Linked DNA regions of Homo sapiens: region 2 is linked to region 1. The links come from fine-mapping of genetic effects on gene expression. Tissue or cell type: whole blood. Region 1 holds a variant in brackets; the other region holds the start of a gene. All regions are shown on one strand. Distances are between the middles of the regions.

What was found. PIP is the estimated chance that this variant, and not a neighbour inherited with it, causes the effect.
Region 2: SLC2A6 starts here. The variant in region 1 is the best candidate, but not a certain one, in a credible set for the expression of SLC2A6 in whole blood (TOPMed, PIP 0.84).

The regions. Positions count from the first base shown.
Region 1 is chr9:133,441,313-133,451,382 of GRCh38, reverse strand. ADAMTS13 (ADAM metallopeptidase with thrombospondin type 1 motif 13) reads right to left here. Exons shown (of 29, transcript NM_139027.6): 17 at 8,849-8,984; 18 at 8,640-8,769; 19 at 7,822-8,007; 20 at 6,331-6,520; 21 at 5,564-5,684; 22 at 2,655-2,784; 23 at 1,418-1,600. Among named protein-coding and RNA genes, the nearest start is that of CACFD1, 14 kb to the left of the region's middle. The variant A/G (reference allele first, on the strand shown) is at 4,385.
Region 2 is chr9:133,473,064-133,483,133 of GRCh38, reverse strand. SLC2A6 (solute carrier family 2 member 6) reads left to right here and starts at 4,035. Exons shown (of 10, transcript NM_017585.4): 1 at 4,035-4,166; 2 at 4,718-4,880; 3 at 5,893-6,099; 4 at 6,798-6,897; 5 at 7,523-7,734; 6 at 8,021-8,173; 7 at 9,046-9,154; 8 at 9,534-9,719; 9 at 9,884-10,029. The coding sequence starts at 4,075. RefSeq lists enhancers at 3,524-4,025, 4,446-4,505 and a silencer at 3,636-4,285.

The sequences.
Region 1 (10,070 bases):
GGGAGGCTGAGACAGGAGAATGGCTTGAACCCGGGAGGCGGAGGTTGCAGTGAGCCAAGATTGCATCACTGCCTGGGCAACAAAGCGAGACTCCGTCTCAAAATAAATAAATTAAATAAATAAAAGTAAGTGGACAGGAAGGAAACATGGCAGTAGGATGCTATCTATTAAACTGGAGTGCTGGAACATACATGTCTGTTACATTCTTTTCTGGACGTTTCTGTATGATATAGAAAAGTATTTCTTTACTAAAAATGCAAACCTACAAAAAGAAACCATTAAAGAATTGTAAATGAGGTAGGCAAATGTTCGCCCTTTACCACTGGGCTCCGGACCCCACGGACTTGAACATGATTCTGTCCCGTGTCCTAGTGTGGCTGTGTGTGTCCCTGTGGAGACCTCCATCCCTCCCGTCTTCCACATCAGAATGCTGGTGCTCACAGCTTTAGGTTCTGCTCAAATGCTGCCTCCTCTGTCCCCCAGGCCTCCCCACACTGCACCCTGCCTGCATGGTGCTTAAACTTCACCTCCCACAACTAGCACAGCCTGCCAGGTAGCCCTATTCCTTACAGACTGGCTCTTGGGCCACTGAGCCCCCCACCCCGTCTTGTTTTGTTTTGTTGTTTTGTTTTTGAGACGGAGTCTCGCTCTGTAGCCCAGGCTGGAGTGCCAGCGGCGCCATCTCGGCTCACTGCAACCTCCGCCTCCCGGGTTCAAGCGATTCTCCTGCCTCCGCCTCTGAAGTAGCTGGGATGACAGGTGCACACCACCACGCCAGGCTAATTTTTGTGGGTTTTCTTTTTTTTTTTTTTTTTTTGAGATGGAGTTTTGCTGCTGTTAGCCAGGCTGGAGTCCAGTGGCGTAATCTTGGCTCACCACAACCTTGGCCTCCCCGGTTCAAGCGATTCTGCCTCAGCCTCCCAAGTAACTGGGATTACAGGCATGTACCACCACACCCGGCTAATTTTGTATTTTTAGTAGAGACAGGGTTTCTGTATGTTGGACAGGCTGGTCTCGAACTCCCAACCTCAGGTGATCTGCCCGCCTCAGCCTCCCAAAGTGCTGGGATTACAGGAGTGAGCCACCGCGCCCAGCCTAATTGTTGTATTTTTAGTAAAGATGGGGTTTCACCATGTTGGCCAGGCTGGTCTCAAGCTCCTGACCTCAGGTAATCCACCCGCTTCAGCCTTCCATAGCGCTGGGATTACAGGCGTGAGCCACCACACCTGGCCCCGTCTTGTTTTTTTTTTAGAGATGAGGTCTCACTGTGTTGCCCAGGTTGGACTTGCACTCCTGGACTCAAGTGGTTCTCCTGATTCAGCTTTCCAAGTAGCTGCGATTACAGGCACACACCACAGCGCCTGGCCTGGCATCTGCACACACCAGGAGCTGCCCCTCCCATCACCGGCTGACTCACCTAGGTGGGCAGGGCTCCAGGCTGCAGGCCTCCTGGGGTTCCGGGCGAGGCAGCCCCTGGCACTGGGTGTCCAACAGGATCTCCTCACCATCGTCCTCCCCATGGGCCCGGGCACAATACAGGATCCTCCGCACGACCCCTCTCCCACAGCTCACGCTGCAGGCCGCCAGCTTGTACTGCCACCTGGAGCAAACTGGAGTCAGGGACCCCAAACAGCCCCAGGGCCTGGGAACCCAGGGGAGCCAGGTCTCCCCTTCATTTCCCCAGACTAGGAAGAGACAGGAAGCTGGGAAGGGCCCGGAGAGGTTCTCTTTCTGGAGGCCCCCTTGTGTCCTCACCAAGAGGCTTGGCAGAGTGGACAGAACATTTGGACAAACCCATTTTACAGAAGAGAAAGGTGAGGGCAAACGACAGATGTCGTATCCCAGAGACAGTGGGGGCAGGGGTCCGGGCACCCAAGGGCCCTGCATGTCTGTCTTCAACAGTGATCCCAGCACCACCGCCCTGGAGCCCACCCCGCCAGCCCTCCCCTCCTCCCCTCCCGCTGTGTTTGGCTGCATCGCACTGAACACCATCCATCAAACTGCATTCCCCGCCTGTCCTATTATTATCTGTCCCCCTTTCCCCCTGCATTTGCTCCAGGAGGTCAGGGACATTTGTCTGCCTTGTTCTCTGCTGTGTCCCCTAGCTCCAGGACGGCCCCGGGGCCTAGGTGCTCCATAAAGAGCAGGCGATGAAGAAACGCACCAGCAACCATGTGCACCCACAGCATCCCAGATCCTGTGCAATGTACTTTACACGCGTTGCATCGAGCATGCATTTTACACTCATTGCATTTAGCATGTACTTTACATGCATCTAATCCTTTCATTAAACTCCCCCAGTCTTCTGGGGGCACAAAATGACCTGCTCCCACTGGTGAGGACACTGAGGGTCAAAAGGTCTGGCTTGGAGGTGAGGAAAGAGCCAGGATGCAGACCTAGCACCCCCTGTCTCCTTGGGAAGGGGCCCACCTGGCAGGGCAGGGCTCTGGGTTGCAGTCCTCAAAGGGGCTGGGCCGGGGCTCTGGCCTGCACTTGGAGTGAGGCAGGGGGATGGGGCGGCCATGGTCCAGCCTCACACAGTGCACAGCCAGCAGCACCTGCCCCCCTCCGCAGGTCACCGGGCATGGAGCCAAGGCTCGGGTCTCCCACTTACAGGGAGAAGGCCAGCACACAGTCTTGCTCCCCTCACTCACCGAGCAGGGCACGGGACAGCCTGGCAGACCTCCCGCCGGCTCCCAGGCTTGCTTGCCAGGCCACACAGCTCTTCCTGGACAGGCACCCTGAGGGCAGAGTCCATGCACAGGAAACGCAGCTCCATCAGACCTGCGTGGACAAAGCAGAGACCCAGAGCCCCAAGGGACAGGCTCAGCAAGGACTGCAGCCCAGGCTCACTGGACACCTCTAGCACATAAGGCCCGCATGGGTTTCAATCCCGGCTCTGCCACTTACCAGCTGTGTGACCTCAGACAACTGACTTAACCCTCTGAATCTTAGATTTAGAAAAAAAGATAATGGCATCTACCTTGCAGAATCATTTATAAAGATTTTTAAAAGGGAAGATAACAAGTGCCTGGCACACAGTAGACACTTGACAAATGGTAGCTGTTATTGTTGACCGAGAGGCATTATAAGAATTGCAATATGGGCCAGGCACAGTGGCTCACGCCTGTAATCACAGCACTTTGGGCGGCGGATCACAAGGTCAGGAGTTCGAGACGAGCCTGACCAACATGGTGAAACCCCGTCTCTACTAAAAATACAAAAATTAGCTGAGCGTGGTGGTGCGCACCTGTAATCCCAGCTACTCAGGAGGCTGAGACGGAGAATCACTTGAACCCAGGAGGCAGAGGTTGCAGTGAGCCAAGACTGCGCCACTGGACTCCAGCCTGGGTGACAGAGCGAGACTCCATCTCAAAAAAAAAAAAAAGAAAAAAAAATCACAATATGAAAATCTCTGATTGTGTCTATCATAAAGATGTTATTAGGGCCAGTTTTCTCAAGTCTCTCTTTTAGGAATATCCTCAAAAGAAATAGGCTCAGTGGCTCATGCCTGTAATCCCAGCACTTTGGGAGGCCAAGGCGGGTGGATCACCTGAGGTCAGGAGTTTGAGACCAGCGTGGCCATCATGGCGAAACCCCCTCTCTAATAAAATAAAATACAAAAAATTAGCCAGGTGTGGTGGCACATAGCTGGAGTCCCAGCTGCTCAGGAGGCTGAGGCATGAGAATCGTTTGAACATGGGAGGCGGAGGTTGCAGTGAGCCAAGATCACACCACTGCACTTCAGCCTGGGCGACAGAGGAAAACTCTTAGTCTCAAAAAAAAGAAAAAAAAGAAAAAGAAAAAAAATCTCTTGGTTGGGCACAGTGGCTCATGCCTATAATCCCAGCACTTTGAGAGGCCGAGGCAGAAGGATCGCTTGAGCTCAGGAGATCAGGCTGGGCAACATAGGGAGATCCCATCTCTGCCAAAACTACAAAAATTAGCAGGGTATAGTAGCTATTCAGGAGGCTGAGGGGGGAGGATGGCTTCAGCCCAGGTGGTGGAGGTTGTAGTGAGCTAAGATTGTGCCACTACACTCCAACCTGGTGACAGAGGTTTTCTTTTTTGTCTCAAAAAAGAAAAGAGAGAAAAAGAAATCTCTTTTTGGTCTCGGTTTTAAACAGGCTGACATTTTACTGAGCAAGTGGTCAGGGTTTTCGTTTAAGAACATGGTGTGTCTTCTCAAGCCCATTAGGATGGCCATTATAAAAAAAACACAGAAATAGGCCAGGTGTGGGGGCTCACGCCTGTAATCCCAGCACGTTGGGAGGCCAAGGCAGGCAGATCACCTGAGGTCAAGAGTTTGGGACCAGCCTGGCCAACATGGTGAAACCCCATCTCTACTAAACAAAAAATTAGCCAGGCATGGTGGCAGACGCCT[A/G]TAGTCCTAGCTACTCGGGAGGCTGAAGCACGAGAATCACTTGAGCCCCGGAGGCGAAGGTTACAATGAGCCAAGATCATGCCACTGCACTCCAGCCTCGGCAACAGAATGAGACTCTGTCTCAAAAACAAAAACAAAAACAAAAAAAACCATAGAAATAAAAAGTGTTGGCAAGGATGGGAGGACATTGGAACTCTTATGCACCATTAGTGGAAATGTAAAATGGTGCAGCCACTGGGGAAAACAGTCCAGCAGTTCCACAAAAATTAAACATAGAATTCTCATCTTACCCAGCTACCACACTTCTAGATATACACCCAAAAGAACTGAAAGCAGGAACTCAAACAGATATTTGCACACCCATGTTCACAGAAGCATTATTCACAATAGCCAAAGTGTGGAAGGAAGCCAAGTGTCCACTGATGAATAAATGGATAAACCTGTAAAGGATACACTCACAATGGAATCTTTTTCAGCCTTAAGAAGGAAACACTCACACATGCTACAACATGGATGAACTGTGAGGACATCATGCTGAGTGAAAACTAGTAACAAAAAGGCAAATGCTATATGATTCCACTTCTACAAGGTCCCTAGAATTGTGGAATCTGGAGACAGAAAGGAGAATGGAGGTTGCCAGGGGCTGCGGAGGGGGAAATGGGAGTTCGTGTTTCACAGGGACAGAGCTCCAGTTTGCGAAACTGGAAAAGTTCTGGAGAGGTTGGTGGTGATGGCCGCACAACAATGTGACTGTGCTTTTATGCCACTGACCTGCACAGGGAGAAACAGTTTGGATGGTAAATTTTATAATATCTGTGTTATACTGCAATAAAACAAGATTGGGAAAATAGAAGAACGCTGTGTATCTTAAAGCTAAGGTTTCTCTGCTCGGGTCATCAATTGGGGACCCCCCGGCCGCTCTGCTAGGACCATAAGGAATGGCTCTCGTGCCACACTGCCGGGCGTTATTGTCTTTTCCTACCTTTCAGCCAATCAACACCCACATTTGAAGTGGCTGTCAGCTACTATGCTTAGTCTCCTTGTGTATTACCACGTGTTCCCATATAGTCTGGATTTTCTGCAATCCACCTCAAATGCTTTTCAGAACGAGGCAAGATGCAAGTGGACAGGAGAGTTACCATGAGTGCTGGTCCCCAGGAGCATCCCGGGGGCCCTCACCTCGCCCGCAGGAGACGGAGCACGACCCTGCCGCAGGGGTCCACACGTGTGCAGCTTGAGCCCCCGTCCTGATGCTGCCCCATGGGGAGGGAGCCTTCTCCCCTGCAGAGGTGGCATCCAGCTGTGGGGAATAGCAACAAGCTGGTGGGTCTGGGCCTCCTCTGAGGACCCAGCGATCCCCGTCTCGATCTTCTCAGGCAGCAGCAGAGAGACCAGGAAGTGGCGTGTGTGCACCAGGGGCTCCCTCCCCTCCTCCCTTGGCGAGATCGGCTCCCCGGTCTCGCAGCGGGTATCCTTGCTGCACACCCCACCTTTGCAGGCTCCTCAGCAGCATGAGTGCTCACTGTGGGCCTGGCCGAGAGCTGGGGACCAAGAGTGGGACATGGGAGCATGCCTGGCCCTGCAATCCCCCCAGCCATGAGGGGCGAGGGTTGCCAGCACCCAGGCCAGAGAGCAAGGCCAGTCAGCCTCCAGCCCCTGGACGCCAGGCGGGAGCCTGGCAGCATTTCTCTGCACAGCAGCTGCATTACACTCTCCTCAGATGCTTCCCTCAGCCCGGCTTGCAAGGGGAATGGGAGCCTTCCCAGGGGCCCTGAGCCCTCTTTCTAAGCTTCTTTTCTGAGCAGGGGTGGCCCTCAGACAGCATTCCCACAGAAGGATGGTGTTCTTGCTCTGGCCTGGAGGACGGTGGCAATGGGTGCTCCTCGTTCTCCCAGCCAGGTAAAGGACTCAACAGCCCCAGCCACCCTCATGCCCAGGGCACTCACATGGCCCCAGCCTGGAGGACATGACATCCCGACACAGGGCTCAGGGGCAGGCAGCTTCTCATCTACGGAGCCAGGCCCCTCAGTCACTGGAGCCTCCAGGCCATCTGCCCCTGGCACACAGGTCTCGTTCTCCAAGGCCAGGCCTGCTCCACCAGCTGATGTGCATGAGCTGGGCTCTGACACCTCCCACCTGAGGATGGCATGAGACAGTCATCAGGCCCTGCCTCTGCCACCCAGGGGAAGGTATAGCCCAGCTGCTAGGGGCAGGGAGGAAGGGGACCTGCTCCCCAACATCCAGGAGCCCAAAGAGGAGCCCCACAGAGAAGTGAAGCTCAGGGTCTCTCCCTGAAGCACCGGGTTCCCCATTCATCAGCCAGCAGGTTCCCATTCAACAAGCACTCGCTGCTCAACAGTCAGGCACCCCACCTGCACCCAGGGTGCAGAGACAGAACCTATCCCTGGCCAGGCACGGTAGCTCAGCACTTTAGGAGGCTGAGGTGAGCAGACTGCTTGAGCCCGGGAGTTGGAGACCAGCCTGGGCAACATGGCAAAACCCTGTTTCTACAAAAAATACAAAAATTAGTTGGGCTTGGTGGCGCACACTTGCTGAGGCAGGAGGTTGCAGTGAGCCAAGATCATGCCACTGCATACCAGCCTGGGTGAGAGAACAAGACTCTGTCTTTTAATAAAAAAAAAAAAGAGAACCCATCCCTCCTACTCTCCAGAGGCAGAGGCCGACCTCCAGCCAGGTAATCACTGACTCCATGCACCATAGCAGGTGCAGAGAAACAGGTGCCACATGGAATTGGATCACCAGGTTCAAGGGTGGCCAATGGGTTTCAGCTGTGAGTCAGCCCTGCGCTAAAGTGGCTGCCTGGAGAGCTGTGTGAGAAGGATTCTGAGGCCCTATCTGGCCTCAGCGGGGAAGAGTGGTGACTGTTTTGTCTGCCACGGATGACGAGGCGGGGAAAGGAGTCCAGAGCTATGAGTGGGCCACCAACAATCCAGACCAATCCCCTCCCACCGGACAGGTCGCAAAACTGAAGCCCACAGAGGAGGGGACTTGCCCTGTCACTCAGCTCGTTAGTGGCAGGGCAGGATGATAAGCCACTGTCAACTTGGACACTGAGGGGATGAGATGCAGCCACGTGGGCACGGGGGAGATGGTGGTGATGAGAAAGTGACATCTCCCACTCCGTTCAGTTTGACCTCATCCTCGAAGCCCCCCCTCCCCAGGCAGGTCGGCATCCCCATTTCAGAGCAGGGGCTCGGAAGCTCAGAGAGGGAAACAATGGGCCCAGGCTCTCCTGGGTAGTAAGGAACTCTGACAGCAGCACTTACAACCGCCAGGTGACACTGCCCATCACCCTGGATGGTGAGGCCCCGCCGGAGGCCTCAGGAGGAGGGGATTCTCAGAAGGATGGGGGCTCAGCGCAGGGACGAGCTCTGCCAGGAAGGCCCTCTCCCAGCCCCACCTAGCCCTGGGCTCACCTGGCAGGGCAGGGCTGGGGGTTGCAGGTTTCCAGCGCCACAGCTGGCTGCTGGGCCCCTGCTCTGCACCGGGCTGGGGGCAATGTCTTCAGGAGGCTGCCCTGGGCCTCCACGCAGCGCACTGGCCGCTCCCGCAGGCCACCCCCACAGGAGGCGCTGCATGGGCCGAAGTCTCCCACCGCCCAGCTGAGGAAGGAGACAGAGCGTCGGGACCCTGGCCAGGTCCCAGGCTGGCCTGGGGTGATGGGGTGGCAGGTGCTGATGTACTCCCCCGGTCTGGGACAAGCAATGGGCACTACGGCCAGCCTAGCCTCTCCAGGTGTTCCCAGGCTGCCAGACGGCTGAGCCTGAGGACAACCGAATCACAGGCTGGTGAGCAGCTGCCCTGTCCTGCACCCAGCAGGAATGGCCTCGTCCCTAACAGTGTGCCCCGTCAGGTGTGGTGACAGCCAGGGGCTTTGCACCAGGAGCTCCGCAAGTCTCCCTACAACCCTCCAGGTAGGCAATCACCTCCATCTCACCATGAGTACCTGAGCTCAAGAGAGGCCTCGGTGGCCCAGACAAGGTGGCAGCAGGTGTGGGTCCCACTGGGCTGACATTGTCACCATGTCTGCCCCAAGCCTCAGTGTCCTCACCTGCAGAATGGGGGCACTCACAGAGCCCCCCTTGCAGGGCTGTGGGCAGGGGTAATGAGAGCCTGCACAGGAGCAGCTCAGCCCGGCCCTGCCACATGGGCCCCATAGGCCAGGGACAGAGCCCAGCAGCCCCAGCGGAACCCTCTCTCCCCCTTGGAGCTGCGCAGACAGCACCACACTCACTAGGGAGGGCAGGGTTCGAGCACGCAGGCCTCTGGCCACGCTGGTGGCTGCTGGCTCCCTTGGCACTGGACAGTCTCCACCAACTCCTTCCTGGCCTGGTCCAGGCAGCTGTAGTTTACCCAGCGCAGCCCTGGGAGGGAAGAGGGAGGGCTAGGCCGCCTCCCTGCAGGGGCAAGCCGTGCTGTGGATGAGCCTTCCCCAGGTCTCACCTGCCCCACAGCTCACCGAGCAGGGCCCACGCACAGCGGCCCACACCCAGGCCTGCCGTGGCTTAGGCTGGAAGTAGGTGAAGGTGATGTCTGGGCGGGTGAGGTTGCCATACTCCTCGCCATACCGCCTGTAAACCTGCAGACAAAGAGCTTCAGGCCTTGTCCAGTGGGTTCCCTGAGGGTCACTGTCATGGCCACCTCCCCTGGGAAGCCTTCCAACTTCTTCTTGCATCCCTATAATCTTTCGTTCAGCAAGCAATCACTGGCCAGGCACGGTAGCTCATGCCTGTAAACCCAAAACTTTGGGAGCCTGAGGCAGGCAGATCACTTGAGCCCAGGAGTTTCAGAGCAGCCTGGGCAACATAGCACTCCAGCCTGGCCAACAGTGAGACCCTCTCTAAAAAAACAACAAAGACAAAAATAACGGGAAGCAATCACCAACACTGACCTGTACCAGGCTCTGGGGATAGCACAGTGCACAGGACACTGGCTGAGCTGCAAGGAGCTCTCAGTGGGTTGGGATAGAGGGCTCGGGGAGGTAATTACCAAGTCATTGGTGGGTTACATGATAGGGTATTTGGGCAGCACAGAGAAGGTTCCCTAAGCTGGCTGGGTAGAGGATAAAGTGCAGTGGAGGAGGCAGGCCCACCTTAGGCTGGGCTAAGGAGCCCAAGAAGGGCTAGGGCAGGGCCAGCACAGAAAGTGCTTCTGGAGCCAGAGCTGAGGCCCGTAGGGTCGGCAGGAAGAAACTGGATCCCTGGGGACCTGTGGTAGGGTCGGCAGGAAGAAACTGGATCCCTGGGGACCTGTGGCCAGCTACTGGCTTGGGACTGGCCCGGAGAGCACTAGGAAGAACTTCAGCAGGTTCCTGGGCCTAAGGCTCTTCAGGAGGGTAACTGGGTCCTGTGCCCAAGACCAGCCCAAGAAAGAGGCCAGCCTGGAGGCCAGAGCCCAGGGCGAGGTGACATTCCGCACCTGCCCCCTCGATGCCCACATCTGGCCAGTGCCGCAAGCCTGTGTTGGTTACGGTGCGGTTTCTCAGGCCCAACACAGGGAAGTCCTGATTCAGGGAATATGCAGAGGACCCGGGAATCTGCTTTTTTACACACTGCAGAGGATGATGGGAGAGCCACTCGGCAGCTAGCATCTGGATACAATGTCCCAGGCAAGGGGAGGGGAGGAAGGGAACCATATCAGGGGAAGAGAAGGGATAAGCCGCTCA
Region 2 (10,070 bases), 32 kb before region 1:
TAGTAGAGGCAGGGTTTCACCATGTTGGCCAGGCGCCCAGTCAAAAGTTTCCATTTGAGATGTTCTTTTGGGTCCTGTGTACCAATGAAACTACTGACACCGGCCGGGCGCGGTGGCTCACGCCTGTAATCCCAGCACTTTGGGAGGCTGAGGCATGCAGATCACGAGGTCAGAAGTTCGAGACCAGCCTGGCCAACATAGTGAAAACCCATCTCTACTAAAAATACAAAAATCAGCCAGGTGTGGTGACATGCATCTGTACTCCCAGCTACTCTGGAGGCTGAGGTGGGAGAATCGCTTGAACCCAGAAGGTGAAGGTTGCAGTGAGTGGAGACCATACCACTGCACTCCAGCCTGGGTGACAGAGTGAGACTCTGTCTCAAAAAAAAAAAAAGAAAGAAACTACTGATGACAGCTGGTCTCAAGGACCCCAGGAGGACCTGATTCACCAAAGAATACATTTTCCACCTCCTGATGATTTTACCTCCCATCCCCAGACCTATCAACAACCCACTTCTAAAGCCCATCGCCCTCCATGATCCCCTTAAAAGCCCCAGCCCAAAGCTCCTAGGGGAGATGGATTTGAGGATCTCCTCCCATCTCCTTGCTCAGAGCCCTGCAATCATTAAACTCTTCCCTGCTGCGAACCCTGCTGCACGGTGTACTGGTGTGTCGTGGTGTCACGGTGGAGCAGGCATGTGGATCTGCTGGTCTTGTAACAATGGGTGAGGAAACGGATTCCACCTTTTCTACCCTTACAGTTTGAAACAGCTTTGATGCCCATGACAGAAGATTCATTACAAATTCAAGCTCATCCACCCAGCCTTTAACATTAAAAGGCTGTGAAACAGGGCCGGGTGCAGTGGCTCATGCCTGTAATCCCAGCACTTTGGGAGGCCGAGGCGGGCGGATCACGAGGTCAGGAGATGGAGACCACCCTGGCTAACACGGTGAAACCCCGTCTCTACTAAAAATACAAAAAATTAGCTGGGCGTGGTGGCAGGCGCCTGTAGTCCCAGCTACTCAGGAGGCTGAGGCAGGAGAATGGCGTGAACCCAGGAGGTGGAGCTTGCAGTAAGCTGAGATGGCACCACTGCACTCCAGCCTGGGGGAAAGGGCGAGACTCATCTCAAAAAAAAAAAAAAAAGGCTGTTAAGCAGGGTTCTGTGCAAGAAGGCTCACACCGGCTCATTCTTTTAGCCAAAAACTGTGCTACATCCGTAAAACACTACACTACGCGGCTGCAAATAAGAACAAACCACTGAACATCAGCAAACCACTGATAAATTTCATAAACATGCTGAAAAAAGAAGGCAGACAAAAAAACAGTGCTTCACATAGGTTCTCTTTATAAGACCACTGTAATCTATCGTCACAGGAAGCAGATTAATAGTTTACTGGGGAGGCCGGGCGCGGTGGCTCATGCCTGTAATCCCAGCCCTTTGGGAGGCCGAGGCCGGCAGATCACGAGGTCAGGAGATCAAGACCATCCTGGCTAACATGGTGAAACCCCATCTCTACTAAAAATACAAAAAAATATTAGCCGGGCATGGTGGCGGGCACCTGTGGTCCCAGCTACTCAGGAGGCTGAGGCAGGAGAATGGCATGAACCTGGGAGGCGGAGCTTGCAGTGAGCCGAGATCGCACCACTGCACTCCAGCCTGGGGGACAGAGTGAAACTCCCTCTCAAAAAAAAAAATAGTTTACTGGGGAGCAGGGAAAGGAGGTTGACCTCAGAAAGGCACAAAGAAACCTTCTAGAAGGGTGGAAATGGGCTGGGCGTGATGACTCACGCCTGTAATCCCAGCACTTTGGGAGGCCAAGGCGGGAGGATCACCTGATGTTGGGAGTTTGAGACCAGCCTGGCCAACATGGTGAAACCCCATCTCTACCAAAAATGCAAAAACTACCCAGGTGTGGTGGCGGGCGCCTGTAATCCCAGCTACTCGGGAGGCTGAGGCAGGAGAATCGCTTGAACCCAGTGGTCGGAGGTTGCAGTGAGCCGAGATCGCACTACTGCACTCCAGCCTGGGCAACAGAGAGAGACTCTGTCTCAAAAAAAGATAAAAGAAAGAAAGAAAAGGTGGAAATGTTTTATATCTTGATTGGGGGTGTTTGGGGTTATACAATTGTCAAAACTCATCAACCTATATTTAAAATGGATTCATTTTACTGTATATAAATTATAGCTTAACAAAGTTGATTTTTCTTGTATTTTATTTTTTCAAGAAGGCTCTCCCTCTGTCACCCAGGCTGGAGTGCTGTGGTGTGATCACAGCTCACCGCAGCCTCAAACTCCTGGGCTCAAGCAATCTTCCCACCTCTGCCTTCCGAGTAGCTGGGGCCACAGGCACTTGCCATCACACCTGGACAACTTTTTTAGCTTTTTGTAGAGACAGGGTCACTTTGTTGCCCAGGCTGGTGTCAGACTCCTGGCATCAAGCAATTCTCCTACCTTGGCCTCCTAAATGCTGGGATTACAGGCACACACCACTGCACCTGGCCTAAAGTTGATTTTAAAAGAAAAAAAATACATTTTAAAAAAAGAGAAGGCCGGGTGCGGTGACTCACGCCTGTAATCCCAGCACTTTGTGAGGCTGAAGCGGAAGGATCACAAGGTCAGGAGTTCAAGACCAAGCTGGCCAACATGGTGAAACCCCGTCTCCACTAAAAATACAAAAATTAGCCGGGCGTGGTGGCACATGCCTGTAATCCCAGCTACTTGGGAGGCTGAGGCAGGAGAATCGCTTGAACTCGGGAGGTGGAAGTTGCAGTAAGCTGAGATCGTGCCACTGCACTCCAGCCTGGCCAACAGAGCGAGACTCCGTCTCAAAAAAAAAAAAAAAAATACACATATAGATATGTAAAAATACATACACATATATATGTATATACGTATATATATGGCCACGAGGACTGTGCAGCCTGATCACCATACCAGGGTGTGCCTGAGTCCAAAGCCTATGATCTTGATGGCAAGAAAACGGTGACGTAAAGGGGCTGCACAGTTTAATGGGGGCCCCAATAGCAAATATGCAAAATAGGCACATGAGGAAAAGACTGGAAGAGGCTAAAACGCCATCAAGGTCAGGCTGACGGGAGATGGATGTGATTTTATTGTTCTATTATGGTTGTATTTCAATCATAATAAAAGGGAATTCTAACTTTTAAAAATGCTTTACCATGTTAATAGCTAAAATGGGAAATGACCCAAATACTCAGCAACAAAGGCTCCGTTTAAAAGCGTGTGTGGCACGTCCATCCAACAGAGCAGGGCGTGATTCCGTCCTCTTCCCGAAAAGGCCCAAAGGGAGAGGTGGAACTGCTGTGGGATTTTTTGAGGACGGTCTTCCCGGGAATTTTCCATTTCTGCTTTTCTTATTTTTCAATGTTATCTTACTACCTGGGTTACGTGTCACGAGCTCAGGTTATTTCTACCACCAGAGCCTGGGGTGGAGGATACAGACCTCGCCCACTGGAGCTGCCCACAGCGCCTCGCCGGCCCCTCCTGCCTCCTTCGTCCCGCACATCCGCTGCTGCCCTGACACACCCCGATTCCCTGGTGCCAGGGAGAGCCAGGGCAGAGGTGGCCCTGAGACGCCACGCGACGGGGAGGGCTAGAGCGTAAGGAGGAGCGAGGTGCGCATTCGCTGTGACCCTGGCGCTCGGCTTCGCCTCTCTGGGCCTCGGTTTCCACCCCGCGGGAGCGAGTACGACAGGGGCTGCGCGCATTGCCGCAGTCACGCCTGCAAGAGCCGGGCCGGGTGAGCCGCTTCCGGCGCTCCGCGGGGGCCCCGGACGATCCAGCAGGGGCTCCGCCCTGGGACCCCCATCCTGTCTTGGGGCGTGACCTTCGGGGGCGCACGCGGTGCCGGCCGCGCCCGGGGAAGCCGGGTCCGCATCCGAGCATCAGGACAGCCTGCGGCCGCCCCATTGGCCGGCGTGTCTCTGCAGGGCCGTCCCACAGCCAATAGCGGCCAAGGGGCGGAGCCTGGCCGGTGCCCTCGGAGCTGCTGGCCCCGGGCGGCTGCTCCAGTCTGAGCGCCCTCCGCTCGCCCCGAGAGAGACCCGGCCATGCAGGAGCCGCTGCTGGGAGCCGAGGGCCCGGACTACGACACCTTCCCCGAGAAGCCGCCCCCGTCGCCAGGGGACAGGGCGCGGGTCGGGTGAGAGTCGCTAGGTTGGGGGCTGCGGGTGGGGCCTGGGGGTGGCCCTGGTTCCCTCCAGCCGGCGGCAGGCTCCCGCCCTGGGCCTCCCCTGACCTAGTCGCCACCGAGGGGCCATCTGGCTCCCTCCTGTCCCAGACACGCTACTCCTATTTAAGGAACTGGTCCCCCTAAGGGAAGGAACGATCCACGAGAGTACCGGGCCCAGCCCCCCACTGCCACAGACAGTGAGACTGAGGCCCCAGCGAGCAGGGGTTCTGCCTGAGGTCACACAGCAAGCCTCCAGCCGCCGCCCTGGGGGCAGAACCAGAGCCTCCTCTTCCGGAGAAAAGGCCCCAGCACCAGAGGCTCAGCCACTGCGGATGAGCTAACAATGGCCTGGGAATTTCCCAGGGGAGCTGGGGCTCAGGCCCTGGGAACGTGAATGGCCTTGGACCCAGGCCTCCCTAGCACTGCCCGCTGAGCCGGGCAGCCACTGGGTTCAGAAAAGGCAATGGTCCCTGGAGGAGGGACTCAGAGACCCTGGTCTTTTTGTCCGCCACCATCACCAGGACCCTGCAGAACAAAAGGGTGTTCCTGGCCACCTTCGCCGCAGTGCTCGGCAATTTCAGCTTTGGGTATGCCCTGGTCTACACATCCCCTGTCATCCCAGCCCTGGAGCGCTCCTTGGATCCTGACCTGCATCTGACCAAATCCCAGGCATCCTGGTTTGGGGTAAGGACCATCCTCTGGAGGAGGGTGGGTGCAGGAAGGAGGGACCTGCTGAGCCTTATCTCCAGCTAGGAACCTCCCAAATTCTCCACCTTGGGGGTCCCTCCAGGGCCCTGGTCCCCCCTCCCCCAGCCATCCAGGCCACTAGTGGGTGGGGTAAAGCTACAGGATTCCTCTGAAATGAGGAACTGAAAGCCAGTGGAGAGGGTGAGGGAAGGAGCAGGTGGGGAGGTGGCTGTCAGGGTCTATACTAGGTGGGGCTGAGGCTTCCCCGGGTCCCCACACCCACAGTTGGCTGGATGGGGGCAAGGGTATCAGGTGTCAGTGGGGAGAGGCACTGGCTGGGGCAAGGAGAGTCCGCAGGACAGATTGTGGGCTGATGGAGAGGAAGATCCCAGAGTCCCAGAGTCTAAAATTATAATCTTAATAGCCTCATATGTAGAGTTGTTAACATAGTAGTTAAGATAAAAATTCCCAAGGTTTACTGAGCACTTCCTATGTGCCAGGCATGTGTTGGGCACTGAACGTTCATTGATTCTCAGGGCCAACGCCACGAGGTAGAACTTGCGCTCTCCCCATAAGACAGCTGAAGAAACTGAGGTGCAGACAGGCTGGGCAATGTGCCCAGGTCCCACTACCAGTTAGCAGAGTCCAGAGGGGGTCCCAGTTGCTGCTGTACAGGGAACTTAAGAACCTCCAAATCTTAAAGCCCAGTACCTTCAAGTCACAGAATTCTCCTGTATTAAAATATTAGACATTTAAACATCAGGCTGGACAGAACCACTGTGGATATGTGGCGCAGCACCTCTTCCTTAGAGCAGAATTCCCCGTTTGGGCATCCCTAACAAATGGCTGTTCCTTGAAGACAGGAGGCTCCCTGTTTCAAGTGCTTGACTTGGCCAAGTGCTTGACCAGCTCCTGGGGTCGGCCTAGGGAAGAAGCTGTCCCTGGACTCTGATGAGATTGGGGTGCCAAGTGCCCAGACATATCTGCCCTGCACCCCCTTCCCCTGCAGTCCGTGTTCACCCTGGGAGCAGCGGCCGGAGGCCTGAGTGCCATGATCCTCAACGACCTCCTGGGCCGGAAGCTGAGCATCATGTTCTCAGCTGTGCCGTCGGCGGCCGGCTATGCGCTCATGGCGGGTGCGCACGGCCTCTGGATGCTGCTGCTCGGAAGGACGCTGACGGGCTTCGCCGGGGGGCTCACAGCTGCCTGCATCCCGGTAAGGCCAGGCCTTCCCACCCAGGCGCCCCAATGCCTCTGTATTGGTGCTGAGCCTCCATCTGACTAAGGCCTCCCAGCCTCCATGCCTTCTGGGCAATGAGAATTGTTTGCCTTCCCTGCGGATGCCCAGGGCGCCTCAGCTCACCCCCAGCAGGGCAGCTAATTTGGGGGAAATTGTCTCCAGGTCCCCAGCTGCCCCCACTCTGGACTTTCCAAGCCTTCTACCCCGTTTCTTGACCGGTCAGATGTATTACTCAATTGGAGAAAATCCGCATTGAGCAATGGGTAGGAGAGGGAAGTCCCTGCCCTACACCCTCCCCGGGACCTTCTTATCTTATGTGGTACTCCACACGGGGCCTGGTGGTGAGCCCAGCAGAGGAGACAAAACTCACTGGGAGGCATGGACTCACCTGCTCAGCCCTGAAGCCTGGGAGCCCTCGGGCCTCCTTCCCAGCGTCATGCTGCCCATTTCCGAGCTGCGTACTTCCACCCACGTCACAGTTAGGGAAACTGAGGACAGAGAGAGATCAGGCAGGCCGCCCAAGGTCTTGCAGTGAGTCATGACCAGGACTCAGCCCCACCAGAAAGCCTCCACTTCCCACTTTCCGGGGTTCACAGGGGCTGACTCTCCCATCTCGGCCGGGCCTAGGAACCAGTATTTTCAGCAAAACCTGGTGCGGCGGCTGTGTCTTGCAGGTGTACGTGTCTGAGATTGCTCCCCCAGGCGTTCGTGGGGCTCTGGGGGCCACACCCCAGCTCATGGCAGTGTTCGGATCCCTGTCCCTCTACGCCCTTGGCAAGTATGGCCCCGCACTCCTGTGTGCAGGCTGGTGGGAGGGGTGGGTGCCGCCAAGGTAGACGTGGGTGGAAAGGGAATGATTTGTCCCAGAACAGATCCTGGGCTGAGAGGCAAGAGATCTGGCATCCCGGCCCCACTCAGTCAGCACCTTGCTGGGCACCTCCAGGCAGGGCCTGCCCCTCTAGCCACAGGCCCAGTCTCTAGCTGGGGCAGCCAGGGCTTCTCCTGGACCCACAGTCGCCAGACTATCTTTTAACGGCAGAAAGCTTCCATCAAATGCCATCTCAGATGGGAAGTCCAGATAGAAAAGAAATCACAGTGCGTGCAGCTGCTCAGTTGAGGGGGCGTGGAGGTCTTGGGTGGAGGCCTAGGGCCTTGCCTGCCCAACCTACCCCTTCCTCATCCTGCCCTGGCCCTAAGACTTTCCAAGGACTTCCCACTATGTGCCAGGGGCTGAGCAATCCCTGCAGCCCCACCCTGCCTGGGGCAATCAGGGTAGGCTTCCTGTAGGAGATGGCCCTTGGACTAGACCTTGAAGGGCAGATGAGGTTATTCAGAGGCTCCAGAGGGAAGGGGCTGTACCAGGCCTGGACCTGGCCCCTCACCCACCCCTCGCCCCCAGGCCTCCTGCTGCCGTGGCGCTGGCTGGCTGTGGCCGGGGAGGCGCCTGTGCTCATCATGATCCTGCTGCTCAGCTTCATGCCCAACTCGCCGCGCTTCCTGCTCTCTCGGGGCAGGGACGAAGAGGCCCTGCGGGCGCTGGCCTGGCTGCGTGGGACGGACGTCGATGTCCACTGGGAGTTCGAGCAGATCCAGGACAACGTCCGGAGACAGGTGCAGGAGGGTGTGCGCCCGAACCGGGCAGGCCCACCTCCAGCACTTCAGCTGTGTGTGGCCGTGGAGGCTTTTCCTGGAAGACAGGACCACAGTAGTTCCCACTAATCCAAGTGCCTGGGTTGGGGTGGGGGGCTGTTCCCAGAGCCTGGGTGGCCTGGTAAGCTGGTTCTTTCCTGGAGGAGGGAAAAAGGAGGTCTCCCACACAACCCCTGGCGGTCCAGGGCAGGATGGCGCCTGCTGGAGAGGCTGGCCCAACGCCCTCAGCGGCGGCCTTGTGTTTCAGAGCAGCCGAGTATCGTGGGCTGAGGCACGGGCCCCACACGTGTGCCGGCCCATCACCGTGGCCTTGCTGATGCGCCTCCTGCAGCAGCTGACGGGCATCACGCCCATCCTGGTCTACCTGCAGTCCATCTTCGACAGCACCGCTGTCCTGCTGGTGAGAGCCCAGCCCCGGCCGGCGCCCACCCACGGGGTCCCCTGGAGGCTGGCAGGGCAGGGGAGGCAGGGCCTGCTCCTGCACTTACCCAACCCCTGGTCTTACCCACACCTGCTCTGTGCCAGGTGTCAGGGATGCCACAGCAAGATCTGAGATCTGGGCCTTGTGGAGACAGTTCCAGTGCCTTCACCTGTTCTCAGAATGTTTTTAAGATAAGCTTAAGTGTTTTAAAATAAAATACTGGCAAAATCCCAACACGAGGCCAAGGCGGGAGGATCACTTAAGCCCAGGAGTGTGAGACTGCAGTGGCCACGATCTCACCACTGCACTCCATCCTGGTGACAGAGCAGGACCCTGTCTCTAAAAACATATAGAAATTTTAAAAATTAAATAAAATACATGGGATTACAAAGGAAACCAGCTTTATAGAAACGTGGACCCCTTGAGGCCACAGACCCCAGGTTCAGAGCCCTGTGGCATCTGCCACTTAATGAGGGAAGTCACTTTCCCCTCTGAACCTCAACTTCCTCCTCTGCAAGATGAAGATAGCAGCACATCTCCATCAGCCTGCCCCAAGGCTCAAAGTGAGATGAGATTTGAAGATTAGTAACAGCACGGTTCAGCAAGTCATCATCACGCCTGGATTCTGTGCCAGCTGGGCATAGTGGTGGGCAGAGCAGATGTGTCCCTGCCCAGGAGCCCCATAGGCTCGGACAGTATAGATGCCCAGCACGCTGCAGGTGCCAGGCCACTCAGTACTGCACTGAGCTGCTGGCCTGAGCCCCTGCAATGCCTGCCGGGACAAGCTGGGTCCTGGAGGGGGATGGGAACAGCAGGCAGGTCCCTCAGCCCTGGTGGTCTCCCCCCGATAGCCCCCCAAGGACGACGCAGCCATCGTTGGGGCCGTGCGGCTCCTGTCCGTGCTGATCGCCGCCCTCACCATGGACCTCGCAGGCCGCAAGGTGCTGCTCTTCGTCTCAGGTAAGCACCCTGCAGGCAGCCCTCCTGCCCCACTCCTCCGCATGGGTCAGGGCTGGGCTGGGTGTGCAGGCCTGCCTCGGGGTGGGGCTGTGTGGCTGGGAACTGCAGAGCACCTGCCTCCCTAGCATCGGCAGGGCCCTGGCCCAGGCCAGTGGTCCAGAAAGGTCCGCTGGGGCTCCGAGTGGACACACTGGCTGTGACACTCCACGGTGGGAGCCTAACACGCGGCTGGAGACAGAGCTTGCTGCCCTGCTGGGGGTCTCTAGTCCCAGACACGAGCTGGACCACGCAAGTATCAAGGGGCTCTGCAGAAGGAGCTCTGAGAGAAACAGCTGGCTCAGAGGGTCCTGGCCCCACGAGGCCACCTGTCTGTCCACAGCGGCCATCATGTTTGCTGCCAACCTGACTCTGGGGCTGTACATCCACTTTGGCCCCAGGCCTCTGAGCCCCAACAGCACTGCGGGCCTGGAAAGCGAGTCCTGGGGGGACTTGGCGCAGCCCCTGGCAGCACCCGCTGGCTACCTCACCCTGGTGCCCCTGCTGGCCACCATGCTCTTCATCATGGGTAGGTGTGGTGGTGGCTCAGAGGGGCAGGCTGTCTTGGGTGTTAAGGGATGGGTGATGTGTCTGGGGTGGCTGGAGAGGGGGGTCTCCAGCAGCTCAGCGGAGACAGACACAGCCGCCTCCAGTCACCCCACAGGGCCTGAACCTGCCTCCTCCTCCGAGCAGGCTACGCCGTGGGCTGGGGTCCCATCACCTGGCTGCTCATGTCTGAGGTCCTGCCCCTGCGTGCCCGTGGCGTGGCCTCAGGGCTCTGCGTGCTGGCCAGCTGGCTCACCGCCTTCGTCCTCACCAAGTCCTTCCTGCCAGTGGTGGTGAGTGTTCAGCCCCAGGCCCCAGGCCCCTAGGCCCTCTC